Homo sapiens: one gene and its partners. The protein of the gene in region 4 interacts with the protein of the main gene of each other region in a biochemical or structural test. Each region holds a gene or a part of one and is shown on either strand. Other genes may lie near its edges.

Evidence for each region.
Region 1: the proteins of RNF8 (region 4) and RXRA form a complex in vitro, tested with the Homo sapiens proteins (one study listed by BioGRID).
Region 2: the proteins of RNF8 (region 4) and KMT5A form a complex in vitro, tested with the Homo sapiens proteins (one study listed by BioGRID).
Region 3: the proteins of RNF8 (region 4) and UBE2E2 form a complex in vitro, tested with the Homo sapiens proteins (2 studies listed by BioGRID).

The regions. Positions count from the first base shown.
Region 1 is NC_000009.12:134,409,381-134,414,245, forward strand, and holds part of RXRA (retinoic acid receptor RXR-alpha), read left to right. Parts: intron 1-4,865. UniProt on the Homo sapiens protein: Receptor for retinoic acid that acts as a transcription factor.
Region 2 is NC_000012.12:123,404,058-123,408,922, reverse strand, and holds part of KMT5A (N-lysine methyltransferase KMT5A), read right to left. Parts: intron 4,285-4,865; exon of another isoform or gene 4,172-4,284; intron 4,040-4,171; coding exon 3,849-4,039; intron 1,431-3,848; coding exon 1,220-1,430; 3' UTR 1-1,219. UniProt on the Homo sapiens protein: Protein-lysine N-methyltransferase that monomethylates both histones and non-histone proteins. Specifically monomethylates 'Lys-20' of histone H4 (H4K20me1).
Region 3 is NC_000003.12:23,531,253-23,536,117, forward strand, and holds part of UBE2E2 (ubiquitin-conjugating enzyme E2 E2), read left to right. Parts: intron 1-1,301; coding exon 1,302-1,449; intron 1,450-2,900; coding exon of another isoform or gene 2,901-2,962; exon of another isoform or gene 2,963-4,865.
Region 4 is NC_000006.12:37,360,483-37,365,347, reverse strand, and holds part of RNF8 (E3 ubiquitin-protein ligase RNF8), read right to left. Parts: coding exon 4,774-4,865; intron 1-4,773. UniProt on the Homo sapiens protein: E3 ubiquitin-protein ligase that plays a key role in DNA damage signaling via 2 distinct roles: by mediating the 'Lys-63'-linked ubiquitination of histones H2A and H2AX and promoting the recruitment of DNA repair proteins at double-strand breaks (DSBs) sites, and by catalyzing 'Lys-48'-linked ubiquitination to remove target proteins from DNA damage sites.

The sequences.
Region 1 (4,865 bases), on a different chromosome or scaffold from region 4:
GCACTGCTTAGGTTGGAGAGGTGGAGCGGGGGCATCTTCTGAGCTGTTGGATGCCAGGGGTGGTCCCGGGCCAGCTTCCTCCCGAGGCCAACTCTGTGGCACCCCGCAGGGCCGCCGGATGGCCCCCAGGCTCTTGGAGCAGTTCCTCCTTTCCTTTTGTTTTTGTGCTCGTCTTATTAACAAATCTGTGTCGGGGCGGTTTGCAGGGAAGTCCCTCCCCCGATGTCACCAAAATTGTCAAGTCATCCAGCCAGACCTGGGTCGGAGTCCCGGGCCCCACAGGCACTGTGACTTCCCAGTCCTGGCTGGCTGTAGTCCTCAGTTTCCCCATCTGTCACATCCCCTTTCCCTCTCAGGTTTGGCGATTCCTGGCCTCTTAGTGGGTCCCTGGGTCATGGTTTGCACACACGTTTGGGGGTGTGCCTCAGTTCCTCCCATCGGGTCCCGTGCCCTGGGCCTTGTGGAGGTGGGAGGTGCTGTCTGGGGTGAAGATCTGTTGGTCTGTCCCTGTCCCCCCGCTCTGCAGGACACCCTTCCTCTGTCCTCTGCTGTGCTGCTCCTGAGGCCCAACACCTGTGTGGCTGGTGTGTCTTACTTCCTCCCCGCCAGCCCCTGGTGGGGTCCCCAAACAGGACCCACACCACTGTCTCACCGTCAGGGATGTCCTGAGTGGCCACCTTGGTGCTGCAGTTTCATTTCATCATCTCTCTTGTGTATGTCTTCTCAGCCTTAACGGTCCTGTTGAGAAATCAGAGCCTCTGCCAGGCGCCGTGCTCCTGGAGGGTGTCCTCCTTGGGCTGCGAGGCTGAGTGTGGTGTATGGGCTGGTGTGAGGTCCTTGTGCCTGCATAGCAGAGCTGCCTTCCAGAGCTGGTGTGGCCATGCCCAGTGCTGCCAGTCAGGCCTTTCTGATGGGGATTCGTGTTTCATGGAGTGCTGACGTTTGCTCAGGCCCACCCTGTGCTGTGCAGGTTGGGAAACCGAGGGCAGACGGTTCAAGCCTTGCGCAGGGTCACATGCTGGGCCCTGGCCCCCATCCAGACCTTGTTGCTTTCACCAGAGGGCAGAGGAGCATGTGCCCAGCCTGGAGAGGTGTGTGCCCAGCCTGGAGAGGTGTGTACCCAGCCTGGAGAGGTGTGGACCCAGTCTGGTTCTTCCGGGTGCCTGGTGTGGGCAGGGAGGCTTGCTGTGGTGGCAGGTGCAGCCTTGTCCCTGGAAGATGGAAACTGGGACAGGGGCAGGCATAGTAGGCAGTGGCCGGGGCCCCTGTGCCCAGGCGTGGAGACTGGCCTGTTCTGGGGTGGAGGCCCGAGGCGTGGCTGGAGCTGGGGGGGGAAGGCCTCGTGTGCAGCCTTAGCCTGGCAGTCTCTGTGAGGATGCCACAGCACAGAGAGCTTGGTTTAGCCGAGACCACTCTCAGATCCTGGGGGCTTCAGGGAGACCCCTGCGAGCTTGGGGGCAGATGAGAGCGCTGTGCATGGCTGATGCCTGGCCTGGGCCTGCAGCAGTAAGCTCGCTGTCCTTTGAAAGTGATCATCAGATAACCAGGGGGGGCCCAGGGGGCAGCCAGTGCAGGCTTAGGGGAAGCTCAGGCACTGTGGGAGCCCAGAGGAGGCACCTGACCCTGCCTCGGGCACCCGGTGAGACGCAGGCAGGCAGGAGGGCTGTTGACGCCTGAGGAATGAAAAGGTGTCGGCACCACAGGCCTGGCTGCAGGGAGCAGTGTCCGTGAAGTCTGAGGCTGTCATCACACCTGGCCCTCGGAAGTCGGTGATGGCCTTTCTGAGCCCCGTCCCGGACCCTCCAGGCTGCACTGACTCCTTCCTAAGGCCCTGCAGCCCAGTCATCCATGTGCCTGGGATCATCAGACTCCAGCTGCCTGGGCCCCCCAAAGCCTGGGGACGACACCCCATCCCATCCCAGTGGAACCGTGCAGTGTTGGGGCTGGGGGGACCTGGAATCACCTGGTCAGACCGCTCCCCTGGTGCCCATCGGTGACTGGGTCCTGTTAGGAGCAGCTCATGTGGGGGACCACCCTGGACACCCCCTTCCTGATCCCCACACATGGTCTCACTCGCCCCATACCTGTGAGACAGAGAAATGGGGTATAGAGAGGTGAGCCGTGGGGAGGTCTAAGGGCCAGCACCAGGCGTGGCCCCCATTTCTTGCCGGTCCTTCCTGCTTCCAGTCCTTCCTCTTGGCAGCGCATAAGCCCTGGAGACCAGACTTAGGGCCGTGAGAGAAACTGCTGCTGCTGTCAAGGGACCTCCTCCCCTTTGCCTCCAGCAGGATTCTGAGGCGTGAACTTGCAGTCAGAATGCTGCCGAGCGCTCTCGCCCCAAACACAGCTGCAGAACTCAGCCTCGGTGTGGAGGGCACCTCTGCGTGGGCGGTGAGGAGGCAGTGAGGCCCCCGTGCCAAACGTGCCCTGCTGCCAGTGCCTCTCCTTGTGCACAGGGGGAGTCTCTTGCCTCCCCCAGCCTGGCTGTGTGGGCTGCACAGCCAGGCCTGTGGAGCTCCTTACTCTTGGGCAGTAACGGGGCCCCTGGTGCAGCCCAGGCACTCGCCCTGCAGGGACCCCACGTGGAAACGGTGGCTGGGAGGGCTTGGCAGGCACCCTCCTCCCCGGCCTGCGTCTGGGTGCTGGGCAAGACCCCTTGGCTCCAGATGGGTCCTGAAGTGCAGAGCACTCCCCTCTCTCCTCTTGGGCAAACCACTGCAAGGCAGGCTCCCCGACAGCGGAGGGCAGGGCTGTTGGCTGCATGGGTGAGGCATTGCAGCAGCCCTGGAGAAAGCTATGGGGCCAAGTTGGCCAACACTAGGTGCCTGTGGCCCAGAGCATGCAGGATGGGAGCTGTCGGCTCTGGGGACTGAGCCCTCCTAAGTGTCAGGCCCCCTGGTGGGCAGCTCCGCCCACTGGCCTTGGTGTCAAGTGGTCCCTCGGCCCGGTTTGTGATCAGACCCCTAGAAACAGGCTGGAGCTGAGGCGTCGCATCCCAGTGCAGTGCTGCGAGGGAGTCGCCTGGGGTTGGTCCCAGGGCTGGCTGAAGGCAGGATGGCCCAGGTGCCCCCATGCGGTGACTCTGCCCCCGGCAAAGGCCCACTCTGGCTCTGGGGCAGATGGGTTCCCACCCCTATGCGGTAGGATACCACAGGCTGATAGCATCTCAGGTTGGGCAATGGGGCCTGCACGCGCAGGCAGCCACCAGGAGGGACTCGTTCCGCAGCATTCCCGGGACCAGGGGTGGGCAGAGGTGGGGGGACGTGCAGTGGTGGGTGTTGGCCCTCTGCCAAGCTGAGCCTGGGCCTGTTTGCTGAAGCCGGGGAGGGGGCAGGGGTTGGGGGTCCCGCAGGGACACGTGCTCTGATGGGGAAGACAGGCCTCACCCTTGGGGGTTCCCAGTCCGATGGAAAAGACCTAGCTTCCACCCAGGGTCGTCGGGGGAGACATTGGTCTAGAGGGGGCAGTGGCTGTCCCCCATTCTGCTTCCTCCTCCTCCCTCAGGAAGGCTGCTTCCCATTTCCTTCCTGCCTGCCTTTGCTTCCTGTGCCCACCCTCCAGCTCTGAAGGACTGGGTGTGGAAACAGCAGGGTCTGGCGTGTGTGCACCTATGTGTGCACGTGTGTGCATGTGCGTGCACTGCAGGGATGTGGCTGACCCACAGGTCTCTGCTGTGGGAAGGGAGCCCCGGCTGGGCTCGAGTGTGGCCCTCTTGCCTTCTGGCCTGTGAACTGGGCAAGTGACCTTGCCTCGCCCAGTCCTCAGGTTCCTCATCTGTGATGGGCTGGGGGCATCAGGAAGACCCCTGCGAGCTTGGGGGTGGATGAGAGTGCTGTGCGTGGCTGGTGGTGGGGTTGGAGAGCAGTGGTCACGTGTGGGTGTGGGTGTGGTATGTCTGTGTGGTGTATGGGTGTGCGTGTGGTGTGTGTGTGATATGTCTGTGGTGTGGTATGTGTGGTGTGGTATGTCTCTGTGTGTCTGTGTGTGTATGTCTGCATGGTTTGTGTGCACGTGTGTGTGCATGGTTCTCGTGTTCTGATGCCTTGCTCTAGGTTGAAGCCCTGGAGGGAAGGTAAGTCACTCCCTTTAGAGACTCTAGCTTGCTGTGTGGCCTCTGGCGCTGCTCTCTGGGTCTCTGTCTCCCCACCCTTAAGAGGAGGCCAGAATGGTTTGGTGGAGTTCGGTCCTGCCTGTCTTGGGCCCAGCCCTGGGCTGCACAAGGGACGGAGGAAGGACTCAGCCATTGCCACTACCCAAGCCAGAGGAGCCAGTGGGCCTGGGGATGCCCCTCGGCTCCGACATGCCTGCCTCGGAGCTGTCTGCCCTTCCCCAGACCCCCTCCCTCCTGCTTGACCCTGAGGGGCTGTGGCAGGTCGGAGATGTCCTTTGCTTCTGAGGGGCTGCTGCACCCTGAGTCCTAGGCCAGCTTGTCTCTGGGGGCCTGGGACCCCAGTGATGCTGGGGAGGGTCCGCCTGGGCAGGAGTCTCAGGTCTTCCTGGGAGGACTGGGCTGCGGTGTGTGAGTCTCCTCTGCCTCTGAGCAGCCTCCCCCGTGCCTCCACTCTGCCTCCTCCAGCCGCCACGCTCTGGTCTGGAGGGTAAAGAGGCTCTGTGTTTACAGACACCTCCCGCCCGGCCTCCGGCGCCAGCGGAACATGAGTCAAGCATGACTTCGTCTAGAAGGTGATTGTGCTGGCAAAGCATAAATCCCGGCCCCTCCTGCCCCCCAGCCTATAAATAAAGCGATCATATTTATAATGATGCTGGGCAGAGCTGCCAGGCCCTTCACAGCTTCAAAGTGCTTCACAAAACACTCGCTAATTAATTCTCGGCTGCCCTGGCGGAGGAGGCAGGTGCCAAGGAGC
Region 2 (4,865 bases), on a different chromosome or scaffold from region 4:
GTGAAAACCTTAGCCCTATCCTTGATTCCTGGGGGCTGCCGGGCCCTGTGTGCTCCCCTGCACACCTGGGTGCCTTTCTGAGGCTGGCAGCAGCGGCCGGGGTCAGGGGTCCTGGGCTCCTAGGCTCACACCTCAGCTCACAGTTGCGTCCTTGCAGGAGGACACTGGGTGTCTGACAAACACAAGGCCTCGACAGCAGGTCTGGAACTTTCAACCCCAGCAGGATGAGGGGGAATGGGGGTGGATGTCAGGTAAGTAATTTCTGGTCCCACTACAAAACTTTATTTTTGATTAGAGTACCATTCTCAATCTCTTCTACAAAAAGCAAAAAAAAGCAAAAAAAAAAAAAAAAAAAAGCAGCCACTTCACTCACTTCAAGACCTATATACATGTAAAGTTGTTTTCTGTGGTTTTTTTTATTTTTAATTTTTTTAAATTTTTATTATTATTTTTTAAAATAAATTCAGTGTTCACATTTCTATAAAGAATTAACCCAGTTTCAGGAAACCCTGCCCCAGCAGGGCAGGTAAGCAACCCTCTCCCTGCCCACATCTAGTTTGATTTCACGCCCTGATGCTTCAAGGTGCCCAGAAAAGCGGCAGCTTGTGGAAGAGGAAATCTATGCCCGGCCCGTGCTTGGGGCCCGGGGCTCAGTAAGCTTTCGAGAAAGCAGAGGGGAAGACTAGCTTACTGCAAAAACCTTTTTAAAAAATATTCATACACTTCAGTGAGCGCCTGTTGAGACGTTAGGGGAACAAGAGCTTGGAAACATCCCGTCCAGGCCATTGGGAGGCAGCGTCTTCCTCACACCCCGTCCCTGGATGTCGGGGGTGCAGGGGGAAGGTCCCGGCTCTTCCACTGGAGAAAGGAGACTCACCTGGCTTCCTAGTTCATGTTTGACTATTTCCTCTAAAACCTGTGCTGAGTCTTTGACTGCATGCACGGGAAGCACAAACGTTCGGCTTGTATGCAAAAAAAGTACAAAAACAACTAGAATATAAAAGTTTTGGTAATATAAGGCCATCTGTTCAAGTCCACCTTGGAAACCTGTAACAGATATTTAAATACTACAGTGAAAAGGCATCTTAATATACTTTTTAAAAACATCTGAAGTAATCCGCTAAGATTAAGTGTGTAAAAAAAAAATTCAATTCCCTTTGAGGGCACTTTGTCCTTTGAAGAAGGGAAAGTGGGGCGGGGAGGGCACGGGGCCCACCGGTTAATGCTTCAGCCACGGGTGGGCTTCAATGGAAGCCTTGCTGCGGTCCCCATAGTCATACAGGAGCTCCTCCCCAGCCGCGATGTCTCGGGAGGCGATGAGGATGAGGTGAGGTACGCCGTCGATGTCGTGCAGTTTGGTTTGGCAGTTCCCACATTTGCTGTGATTGATCAGTCTTCCTAGGCGATTTGTCTCTCTAGTTGCATCCACGCTGGAGGGGAAGGAGGGCCAGAGAGGATTAAATGGATAAAGAGGCTTTTCAACCTGAAGAGAGTCACACTTGTGCTCAGCTCTGGTGGGATGCTGATTTAAAGCCATGTGTTTTGAAAAGATTCAATTCATAAAGCTATTTTCTTTTTCCTTTTTAGAGGGGGTCTCGCTCCGTAACCCAGGCTGGAGTGCAGTGGCACGATCACGGCTCACTGCAGCCTCCACCTCCCGGGCTCAAGTCATCCTCCTACCTCAGCCTCCCGAGTAGCTTTGACCACAGGTACATGCCACCACATCAGGCTAATTTTTAATTGTTTCTGTAGAGACAAGATCTCCCTATATTGCTCAGGCTGGTCTCCAACCCCTGGGCTCAAGTGATCCTCTGGCCTTGGCCTCCTGAGTTTTTGAGATTACAAGCACGAGCCACCAGGTCTGGCTCAATTTGCAAAGCTTTTTTTTTTTTTTTTTTTTTTTTGAGAGGGAGTCTCGTCGCTCTGTCGCCCAGGCTGGAGTGCAGTGGCACGATCTCAGCTCACTGCAACCTCTGCCTCCCGGGGTAAGGCAATTCTGCCTCAGCCTCCTGAGTCACTGGGATTAGAAGCGTGTGCCACCATGCCAGGCTAATTTTTTTGTATTTTTAGTAGAGATGGGGTTTTGCCATGTTGGTCTGGAGCTCCTGACCTTCATGATCCATCCACCTCGGCCACCCAAAGTGCTGGGATCACAGGCATGAGCTACCACGCCTGGCCCACAAAGCTATTTTTGAGAGCCTGCACAGGCCCTGGGTGGGGGGATGGGGTAGGACCCAAAGGGCTCTTTATGGAGGCACAGGAGGAAATGGTAGAGTTTCACAAAATAAATGGATTAAAAAAATCAACCCCGCCAGGCGCGGTGGCTCACGCCTGTAATCCCAGCACTTTCGGAGGCTGAGGCGGGTGGATTACCTGAGGTCAGGATTTCAAAACCAGCCTGGCCACCATGGTGAAACGCTGTCTGTGCTAAAAATACAAAATTAGCTGGGCGTGGTGGCGCATGCCTGTAATCCCAGTTACTTGGGAGGCTGAGGCAGGAGAATTGCTTAAACTTCGGAAGTGGAAGTTGCAGTGAGCCAAGATCGTGCCACTGCACTCCTGCCTGGACAACAAGAGTGAAACTCCATCTCAAAAAAATAAAATAAAATAAAAAATAAAAAATTCAACTCCACTGGTCCTAGCCAGGCAAGATCAATTAGTGATTTCCAGAGCTGCTCTGGCCAAATGCCCTGAAGGAGAGCCAGGTGAGCTGCTTAACAGGTTTTCATGTGACTAGCCCACTTCTCCCCTTGGATGAGATAACATCCAGGACAGCTCCAATTCCAAAGATTAAAAATGGGAAGCTGGGGCCACAGTGGCTCATGCCTGTAATCCCAGCACTTTGGGAGGCCAAGGTGGGCAGGTCACAAGGTTAGGAGATTGAGACCATCCTGGCTAACACAGTGAAACTCCATCTCTACTAAAAATACAAAAAATTAGCCAGGCATGGTGGCATGTGTGTGTAGTCCCAGCTACTCAGGAGGCTGAGGCAGGAGAATCGCTTGAACCTGGGAGGTGGAGGTTGCAGTAAGCCAAGATTGCACCACTGCACTCCAGCCTGGGTGACAGAACGAGACTCCGTCTCAAAAGAAAAAAAAAAAGGGAAGCTGGGGCCAGGCGCAGTGGCTCACATCTGTAATCCCAGAACTTTGGGAGGCTAAGGCAGGCAGACCATATGAGGTCAGACCAGCCTGGCCAACATAATGAAACCCTGTCTCTACTAAAAAAATATATAAGAATTAGCTGGGCGTGGTGACGCACACCTGTAATCCCAGTTACGTGGGAGGCTGAGACAGAATACCTTGAACCCGGGAGGTGGAGGTTGCAGTGAGCCAAGATTGTGCCACTGCACTCCAGCTTGGGCGACAGATCGAGATTCAAAAAAAAAAAAAAAAAAAAAAAAAAGGAAGCAGGCGATAATTGCATCACAGCTTTGAAAAAAGGCAACAACAGCCCGAGCGCAGTGGCTCACACCTGTAATCCTAGCACTTTGGAAGGCCAAGGCGGGTGGATCGTCTGAGGTCAGGAGTTCAAGACCAGCTTGGCCAATGTGGCAAAACTCCACCTCTACTAAAAATACAGAAAAAAAAAATTAGCTGGGCTACTCTGGAGGCTGAGGGAGGAGAATTCTTTGAGCCTGAGAGGAGGTTGCAATGAGCCGAGATCACACCACTGCACTCCAGCCTGGGCAACAGAGCAAGACTCCATCTCAAAAAATAAAAAAAAAAAAGTCAACAACAACAAAACCAAAAGACTGGCCACCAAACAGAATCAGGAGTTCCTGGCCCTTTGGCCTCTCCTCACTGCCCAGAGGACAGAAAAGCCACTCTAAGCAACAGTGGACTCACCAGTAGGTTTTGCTCAGATACTGAAAATAGTACATGTAGCAGCCCGTGGAAGGGTCCTGTGCGTACAGAGCCTCCCGTTTCTTGGCGTCGGTGATCTCGATGAGGTCCCCGTGGTATTCCACCACAAAGTCACCCCGGGAGAACTGCTTGGTGGCAATCACACCCCTGCCTTTGCCATCGATGAGGTCAATCTGTCAGGTGATAAGAGAGGGTGTTGGTTCATAATAGCAATGGATGCCACTGTGCACAGCAGGTCTCCGGGGAGCTGGGGCTTACCCCAGTCTTTAACAGCTGTACTGAGCCATGTCATAAAATTCACTCACTTTACATGTACAGGCTGATGGGTTTTATGAAGTGTATACAGCTGTGCAACCGTCACTACAGGCCAGCTCTAGAACGTTCCCTCACTCCACAAACGTGGTTCCTTGGTGCTCATCTGCAAAGCAGTTACATCAGAGCTCGTGAGAGATCTGCTAGGTGGAGACTGCCCCATTTTGTAGATGAGGAAACTGAGGCTTAAAGAGGCACAACCACGTGTCTGAGGCCACACAGCTAGACAGTGACACAGCTCAAATCCACACACCTGGTTTCTCTGTCTAGGGGCTATGCGCTATGCCTTCCTAGGCAAACAGCAGGCCCAGTGTTCTGGGTCTCTACCTCATTCCACGATTTCTCTCCTGTGTCTCCTCACTCTATTCTACATGGAGTTGAATGGGGTTGCTGGAGGGGCCCAGGACTTAAGCCGGAATCCCCCTAGGTGGTGGGTGGAAGTGGAAGCTTTCTGAACCCGGAGCCCTAGTCTAGGCCCATCTGAACCCCACTGTAGAGAGTACTTCTCCTCTCGCCCAAACTGAGTGTGGTTGAAATACAGTAAGAGAAAAGCACATTTCTTGGGCATTGTCATTATCTAGGAAAACAGTTTAAAAATGTATTAGTTTCTCCTTTTAAAAGTTTCCCTGGGCATCAGCTACATATTGTATAATCCGATTTATATGAAGTGCCCAGAAGAGCAACTCC
Region 3 (4,865 bases), on a different chromosome or scaffold from region 4:
GTGTGTTTTTCTTGGTTCAGAGCTATTTTGAACATAGGGTACCAAAAGACTGTCTTTAGAACCCTGAGATTTTTGTATATTTCAACTTAAAATTTAAGAACATTTATGAACATAATATTAATCAATAATATTCACATCTTATTGCCGTTTACATAACACTTTTATTAAACAGTTTTAGTAGTTATAAAACTGATTTGCACTTAATTATTTTCGTAGTTATAAAACTGATTTGCACTTAATTATTTTCAGTTGAAGTGTTTTACAAATGATATGGTCATGTTTCACAATTACATGTAAGCAGCATACAGTGGTGATCTAGCTATCACAGGGCAAAGGTAGGATGCACTAATATTACGTTTTAAAAATAAAATTTAAGAAGGAAAAGGTTTCTAAATTACAGCTAATTGTAACTAGTAATATAACTAAAATAGTAAATTGTAACTACTATAATTATACTAATATAGTTCTATGAACTGGGCATGTTATTTATATAAATGCCTTAGTTTATGTTTTAAAACTGTGTTATAGGCCGGGTATGTTGGCTTACACCTGTAATCCTAGCACTTTGGGAGGCCAAGGCAGGCGGATGACTTGAGGTCAGGAGTTCAAGACCAGCCTGGCCAACATGGCAAAACCCTGTCTCTACTAAAAATACAAAAATTAGCTGGGTGTGGTGGCGGGCACCTCTAATCCCAGCTACTTGGGAGGCTGAGGCAGGACAATCGCTTGAACCCGGGAGGTGGAGGTTGCAGTGAGCAAAGATCACGCCACTGCACTCCAGCCTGGGCAACAGAGCGAAACTCTATCTCAAAAAAAAAAAAAAAGAAAAAAAAACTGTTATAGAATAATATTTATTTTCTTTGTATTAGTACTCTCATGCTTTTTGGTGTTTGAATATTATAAATGTACAAAATCCTTAAAATAACTGGAATCTAACAAAAGTTTTCTTTGAAATTTTTTAGAAGTCAGAGTCAGTTTCTCCCCATGAACATTCCTGTAGTTGTATCAAAAGTAAATTCAGTCCCTAAAACATTTGTTAAATAACAGGACTCTTTATAAGAAGCAGAATGTCATGGTTTTGCTGTTGATGTTTATTTCTCTGTGCCCAAAATGACAAATTCTAAAATGATGATCTCTGTTGATTAATCTCATGTGCCCAAGAAAAAAATCAAGTGTATGTTAACCAATAGCCTGGGCTATTTTGTCTGATAAAATAGGCAATTTTATTAGACAAAAATTGTCTATAGATACTGTTAATAAACACTTTGTCTAACAAAATATAACTTTACATTTTCTTGTAGGTTACCTTCCGAACAAGAATCTATCACTGTAATATTAACAGCCAAGGTGTGATCTGTCTGGACATCTTAAAGGACAACTGGAGTCCGGCTTTAACTATTTCTAAAGTTCTCCTCTCCATCTGCTCACTTCTTACAGATTGCAACCCTGGTAAGAGACTTTAAATCTAGTATGAATTGGAGCTTGTCAAGATTTAAATGTCAGACCCTTAGTAACTTGTTTACTACTGCTACTACCACTACCACCACTGCTTCTACTACTATTATTGTTAAATTTTCATAGTATGTAACTATTTTCTTTTTAAATTGGGTCTTCTCATTAGTGTTTTTAAGACCTATCATTTGCCAAAAAGGAAAAAGTATAGTGTGGTAAAAAAAATAATGAAAAATCATTTTAGATGGGAAAGTACGTTTAAAGAATGAATTAAGTTATCCTGCCAAATAATAATAAAAATTCAAGTTGAATAGCTTAATCTTTAATTAGATGCCTACTAGAAGATGTTAATTTGAGGAATGTGGGCTATTAAAATCTGATAACAACCAGGCAGCACCATGCAGACGTGACCTTTTTGGCATCCTAGTAACTGTGCATCCTGACAAGCTATTATAACGGTCCTGAATGGTCTGTTCTAGGAAATACCCCAAAAGTAAACAAGGAAATACACCTCCCAAGAAAACGAAAAAGTCTATAGCCAGGCCTTTATGGCTTGCTGGTGTGCTTACCACTGAAAATTCTTAATTCCTGGGCCATGTCTTTACAAATTGGGTTTATTTTAGAAAATACAAAAATCCAAAGATAGCTATAGGGTTTTCATTGATGTTCTCAGTGGGAGAATTATTTTATGAGTAATTAATAGCTTAAATATTGCATGAGATTCCCTCTTCTACAATCATGAGTAAACTCTGTTCACTGGATACATGAAATTTTACACAAATGGAAATGACGAGTATCAGTGGGGTTGCTTAGGATCCTGGCTGTTTTATAAAACATCAAGAAATAACAGTCTTTCTACTTTTATATTTCTTTATTTTTCAGCAGTAAAATCTTTTTTAAAGTAGCAAATTAGTATTTTTTTTTTTTTTTTTTTTTTGAAACTGAGTCTCACTGTGTCACCCAGGCTGGAGTGCAGTGGCACGATCTTGGCTCCCGCAACCTCCGCCTCCTGGATTCAAGCGATTCTCCTATCTTAGCCCCCCAAGTAGCTGGGATTACAGCCGTGTGCCGCCAAGCCCAGCTTATTTTTGTACTTTTAGTAGAGACGGGGTTTCACCGTGTTGGCCAGCCAGGTCTCGAACTCCTGACCTTGTGATCCGCCCGCTTTGGCCCCCCAAAGTGCTGGGATTACAGGCATGAGCCACTGTACCCAGCCTGCCCAAAAAATAAAATTGTGCAGGATCATTATAAAATATTTTTTGAATTAATTCATACTTTACTACAGACAGTAAAGTCCAATAATGTTATACTAATTTAAAGTTAATTTTGTTCTTTCAGTCCTGTTGTTCCCATTTTAATCCCATTTGTCTGTGACTGTGTATAACCTTGTATAACCTCATTTGGAGGTAATGTTGCAAGAAGGCTTTTTTTTTTTTTTTTTTTTTGAGGTGATTTCGAAGCCTGGCCTGCTTTGCCTCCAAGTCAGCTGAAATGGAATCTGTTACCCTGAATAAGCCTGTATATGACAGCCTGTTCTCTCTACAGATATTCCTGCTTAAAGGAATAGATTCATTCCACCAAAGCCTTCTCTCAGCAATCAAAAAGACTTCTGTTCAGTGAACTAGTTTTTTTTTTTTGCTCCGTTTCAGAAAATTACAAATGCATTCTGCAAAAACTTAAAAATCACTCCTAACTAAAGCAGAACCACATAAGTAAAAGAAATAGATTTTGAAATAATGCTATTGATAGTAAGAACAAGCCTAAAAATAATGTTCCATAAAACCAAAGACAGCCTGCCTCATATGAGACTAGAAGAGAATTTGTAAAATACATGCTAACATTTAGTTTATCACACTTTTTAACACATAAAAATAAAGTTTCCTAATTGGTTTTTATGAATGTTGACACTTCTAGAATCTTAAATAGAGTTGTTTATTTTAAAGTAGTCAAATGTCCATTCTTTTGCTTAATGGACTTATTTCACACTGTTATCTGGTACACTTTCAATCTCTGTAGGTTTTTTTACCTACAGAGGTAGGAAAGATTAGGTTAGATTGAAGTTTATCTTAAATCTATCTTCAAATTATCACAAAAACAAGTTTGATAGAATAGGAATAAATAAGATTTTCCTACACTGAATCTGTAGAGCTATTTTAACCCGGAAATGCTGTCACCTCAAAAATAGGCCTTGTATAATGATACAAATTTAACTCACTTAAAAAATACTTTCTCACTCTTATCCATACATAAACTTATTTTCTAAATCTTTTTCATACTCTTTTTGTAATTTGCACTTGTCTCTTTAAAGAATTTTTGGTCCATTCCAACACAGATGTTCTTTAGGGTATGACTACCCATCCTTATCAGCATGATATTTGTAGACAGCAGATGTAGATTTGAAAACCAGTTTAATTGTTTATTAGTCATATCACATTGGATGGGTCACTTAACTTTCCACAGGCTTAGTTTTTGATATAAAATTGGGATTAGTACCAGCCCTGCCTAAATCACTGGATTCCTCTGAGGTTAAAATGAGATGGTATATGTGAAAGCCATTTATAAATGGTAATGTGTTGTTGATATTGTTACCCAGAGTATTTGGGACACCAAATGGGCCCACAATAGGTGACCGATAAACACCTACTCAGTTGAATTTAACTGGGGAGATAGTATCGAATAGTATCTAACGCCGTCACCTCAACATTGACACTTGGATTTTACAATCGAAAAAAGCTGAACCTTGACTTAGTAGGATTATCACTCAGGTGGCAGATGTCCAAACGTTATCAGCCAGTCGATGGGTGCACCAGCAATAATCATTCTGTTTTCAATGCAATTGTCTAGGTAGATCTAACTGCTGGTCTTATTAGGCCACCACTTCATGATGGTGTTTATTGAGCCTGATAGAGCATTCTTTTTTTTTTTTTTTTTTTTTTTGAGATGGAGTCTCGCTCTGTCGCCCAGGCTGGATTGCAATGGCACGATCTCAGCTCACTGCATCCTCTCCTCCCGGGTTCAAGCGATTCTCCTGCCTCAGCCTCCCGAGTAGCTGGGTCTACAGGCCCCACCACCATGCCTGGCTAATTTTTTGTATTTTTAGTAGAGACAAGGCTTCACCGTGTTAGCCAGGATGGTCTCAATCTCCTGACCTCGTGATCCGCCCGCCTCGGCCTCCCAAAGTGCTGGGATGACAGGCGTGAGCCACCCAACCAGCCAAGCATTCTTATTTGTTAGACGTTACCTGGCTTTTTCTGAGTTTAGTCTTGCTTACTAAACATTATTTAATTTGTGAATTGCCAAAGTTGAGAATACCATTGGGGAATCAAATTTCTGTGCTTTCTTATTTGTAAGTACTTTCTTCTGGAGTCATTATTTAACACATAAAATTTAAGTTCTATTTGGTTTCATCTTTT
Region 4 (4,865 bases):
TGGTAGTCAACCTTTCCCGCATTCCCAGGCAACTACTTATCTGTTCTCTTCTCTTTCCCAGAATGTAATACAAATGGAATCTTATTATCTACACTTTTGAGTCTTGCTTCTTTCACTTAGTGTAACGCCTCTGAGATTCGTCCACACTGTTGCATTATCGGCAGTTTGTTATATTTTATTGCTGAGTAATATTGAAGGTAGTAGGGGTGGAGCACAGTTTATCCATTCCCTAGTTGTTTTTTTTCCCAGTTTTTGGTGAATATTAATAAAGCCACTACAGGCCAGGTGTGGTGGCTCACGCCTGTAATCCTAACACTTTGGGAAGCCGAGGCAGGTGGATCAGCTGAGGTTAGGAGTTCAAGACCAGCCTGGCCAACATGGTGAAACCCACCTCTACTAAAAAGACAAAAATTAGCCAGGCGTGGTGCCGCATGCCTGTAATCCCAGCTACTCGGGAGGCTGAGGCAGGAAAATCACTTGAACCCGGGAGGCAGAGGTTTGGGGAGCCGGGTTCACGCCATTGCACTCCAGCCTGGGCAAAAAGAGCGAAACTCCATCTCAAAATATAAAAACAAAAAAAATAAAGCCACTAGAAACATTCACATACAAGTTTCTGCGAGAACATAAGCTTTCATTAATCTTGGGTAAATACCTAGAAATAGGATCACTGGACAAGTATATATTTGACTCTTAGAAACCACCAGTTTTTCAAAGTGGAGGTACCATTTTATATTCACACTTGAATGTTGAGGAGTTCCAGTTATTCTGCATGCTTGCCAGCACTTGGTATCATCAAGTCTTATTTCAGCAATTGTATTAAGTATGTATCCGTCAATATATTTTTTAAAGTCTTTACTAAAGCGGAACATGCAAACATAAACGTGCACAAATCATAAATGTACCAACTCGATGAACAGTCACAAAATGAACATCTTAGTGTAACTACCATAAGGTCAAAAACAAAACAAACCCCACATTATCAGCATCCCAGAAACCCCTGTGTGTCTCCTTCTAGTCAGTAGCCACCTTGGCAATAAAGTGACTACTATCCAGATTTAACAGCACATGTAAATTTTGCCTGGTTTTAAACATTGTATAAATGGCATCATATAATATGTATTCTTTTGTGTCTGTCTTCTTTCACTCAATTTTTTTTTTTTTTTTTTTTTGAGACAGAGTCTCGCTCTGTCCCCCAGGCTGGAGTGCAATGGCCTGATCTCGGCTCACTGCAAGCTCCGCCTCCCAGGTTCATGCCATTCTCCTGCCTCAGCTTCCAGAGCAGCTGGGACCACAGGCACCCGCCACCACGCCTGGCTAATTTTTTATATTTTTAGTAGAGACGGGGTTTCACCATGTTAGCCAGGATGGTCTCGATCTCCTGACCTCGTGATCCGCCCGCCTCGGCCTCCCAAAGTGCTGGGATTACAGGCGTGAGCCACAGCGCCCAGCCTTCTTTCACTCAATATTATGTGAGGTTTATCCATGTTATTAGATATAGTAGTTCATTCATATTCACTATAGTATAGTGTTTCAATATAAGATTATTCCACAATTTATCCATTCTACTGTTGATGGACATTTGGGCTGTTTCCCGGGGAGTGAAAATACTGTGTCAAGAGCTATATGTATGTTCAACTTTAATGAATAATGCCAAATAATTTCCCAAATTGTACCAATTTACACTCCCAACAGAAGGGTAAGAACATTCTATCACTCCATATCCTTACCAATACCTGGCATCACTAGTCTTCAATTTTAGCCACTCTGGTGAATGTGTAGAGGTATTCCATTATGGTTTTAATTTAAATTCCCCAGATTATTAATGAGGTTGAACAACTTTTCATTGGATAGAACCTTTTGTGAAGTGCTTGTCTCTTGCTCATTTTTAAATAGGGCATATCTGTCTTTTTCTTATTGGAGTTCTGCAGATACCTCAGTATAAACCCTTCATTGACTATAATGTGTAGCAAACATCTTCCTCTGAGTTTGCCTTTTACTCTCTTAATGGTGTTTTTTGACGAATGAACGCTTTTATTGTACTACCATCAGTATTTTTAAAAAGTGCCCCAGGTGAGAGTAAAAACTGGAAACAGGGTTGATAACCACTGCTCTAGTTGCTGGAGGACCAGAAGCTGAACTGTCCCAAACAGCAAACTTTGTTCACGTAAGAGTACACTCAACAGGGACTTCAAATGCCAGAGTCTGCAGAAGAACAAAGGTAGGAATCACCAGGCAGCAGGTGAAAAGCAACAGGAGAGGAGGGTAAGAATGGGAAAGGCTCAAGTAAGACGTGACTGAACCTCTAAGGCATTTCATACTGTGACTTTAAAACAACCAATTTTCTGAAAGAGCTGGATACCAATACAAAGGACGGGCCATCTGAAAAGCTTATGAATTGACCAAAACCTACACAACTAGAACCATCCTCATACTGTGTGCAGACTTAGCTGTCCTCCAAGGTTTTTTTCTATATTTTAAGCCAATTTTAAACCAAAATAACATTTCTTGCAATTTTTGTATCTATACTTAAGCTCTCACTTTCTGGCCATTCCAGCAGATAAGAGAATGCAGCTCTGAGTTTTTAACTTGTTAGAAACACCTATCTCTTGAAAAAGATTTGGCAAATGACTTCAAACACAACCACAGCAATAATACCCTACAGCTGAAATTCAGGTCTCTTATCAGCAGAAGAGGGCTGCCATGGCATCATGCCAGGAGGAAGCCAGAAAGGGGGCATCTGTAGTCAAAAGAAAAGTGCAGGGGGCAGGGGGGATTTACTTGTAAGAATTGTTCCATCAAAACACCCCAGTCCTAGCTTCTCTTAAAATTAAATCAGTTATCTCACAAACAATCACAGCTAAAAAGTTTAAACAGGTTGTTAAGAAACCTATCTTTCCTCTCTATTGCCTGACTGAGACCTGAGAAGAATCATATGATAACAGCAACCCTAGAAGGAAGGGTACAAAGCAAACACTGGAGAGTGAGCCCGGAGCACAGTCATGATCTGATCTTGCACAGGCTGCCTCTGTATCCCTGTGGTTGAAATTCAAATAACACTGAAGTTGATCAGCTGTTGGCTTCCCAACCTATGAAAATCTGCTAATCCCATAAGTGGATCACATCTACACTGCACATAATTAAGAAAAGCAGCAGCAGAGAACTCACCTCTATAATATTGTAATCCTAACTCTCATACAGCCTACTCTGATGAGGAAAACATCTTTTCCTAAGCTGTTTTGATATACGCTATTACAGAGGCTTTAAAACCTTGCAGCTATATTTTAAATATGCATAATTAATTGTTTGACGTCATAAAGCCAGTATAGCAAATTGCTTACATACTTTACTGATACTTGACACAGGGCATAGCAGAGAAACTTAAGTCCTGGCTCATTATAGAGAAGGCTTTGGGCAAGACAGTTTATCTCTCTGGGCCTCAGATTCATCTGTCTACATAAGGGGTTAAAGTAGATAATCTCAGTGCCAATTTTTATCCTGCTCATGGTGCCTTGCTAAAAGTGCTGAACTGATTTACTTAGCATTTATGTACTGTCTCCTTCAATACAGTGCCAACTCAACTTAATTCTAGAGCAGGAAGATACTTTCCAACAGCTTAAATCTAGCAGTTTTATGCACGCAATATGAGGATGGCAGGCAGACCTGTGGGATACCCTCCCTTCTAATGGTACCTTTAAAATCCTAACTGGGGCAGTGAAGCAATATGAAATGGCACTTAAAGACATGTTATACTTCCTAAACATTAACTGTTTATGTTAGAATTTCTCTCACCTCATAGTCTGTATTTTCATCACATTCCTCGGTGCTTGTATATCTGCACTTTAGGTATCTTCTTTTCTTTTTGATAGCGACAGGGCTTCACTATGTCAGCCACACTGGAGTGCAGTGGCTATTCACAGGTGCAATCCCTTTGTTGATGAGCACAGCAGTTTTGACCTGCCCTCCTTCCAACCTGGGTCAGTTCACCTCTCCTTAGACAAACTGGTGGTCCCCTGCTCCCAGGAGGACACCATATTGATGCCGAACTTAAGGCAGACACCAGAATGGCATAGCACACTATAACCCAGAATTCATGGGCTCAAACAATCCTCTGGCCTCAGCTTCTCCAGTAGTTGGGACTACAGGCATGTGCCACCACACCCAGCACATTAGGTACTTTCTAATTGCTGGGCTTCATATACTATTGCACCTCCCTCAATATATTTACCACTAAACTAGTGGTTTTCAAATTTGTTTAAAGGAGAAAAACCCATTATTCAAAGGAAATCTTCGGAACACCAATATTTAAAACATGTTTTAAAGGCCAGGGGAGGTTGCTCAGATTGAAAGGAGTGAGGAAGGAAAGGAGCTAAGCGCAATCAGATCAGTTTCTCCCTCCTCCCCTTGTCCACTGAGCCATAAGTGTACTCCAGAAGCGTCAGCAGATTCTGCAGATTCCCAGGGTCTCTGGGAGCTTCACCTCAAACAGGCTTATTTGCCCAGTAACTTAGTCTAGTTTCTGGAATAGGACCTACTACCCCAATTCAGGTATTCTCTTCAAGTTAACAAACTTTAACCCAAATCAAGAGAAATTATTTTAGCATAATCGAATCTCTGGCAGCATATGGAAGTGGCTGCCTCTGGAAAAGGGAACTGGATGGCTAGGAAAGAAGAAGTTATACTTTTGAATTTTATACCATGAATTACCTATGCAAAAAAAAAAAAAAGTAATTTAAAAACAAATAAAAGTCATTAGGCTTCTGTGAATTCCTGTACCTTGTTGTCCATAATTGTCCATTGGCCCTCAGGATTCTGCTTCAAAACACAGTGGTTTCGAGAAATCATCAGGGGGCAGATTTTTGATACCA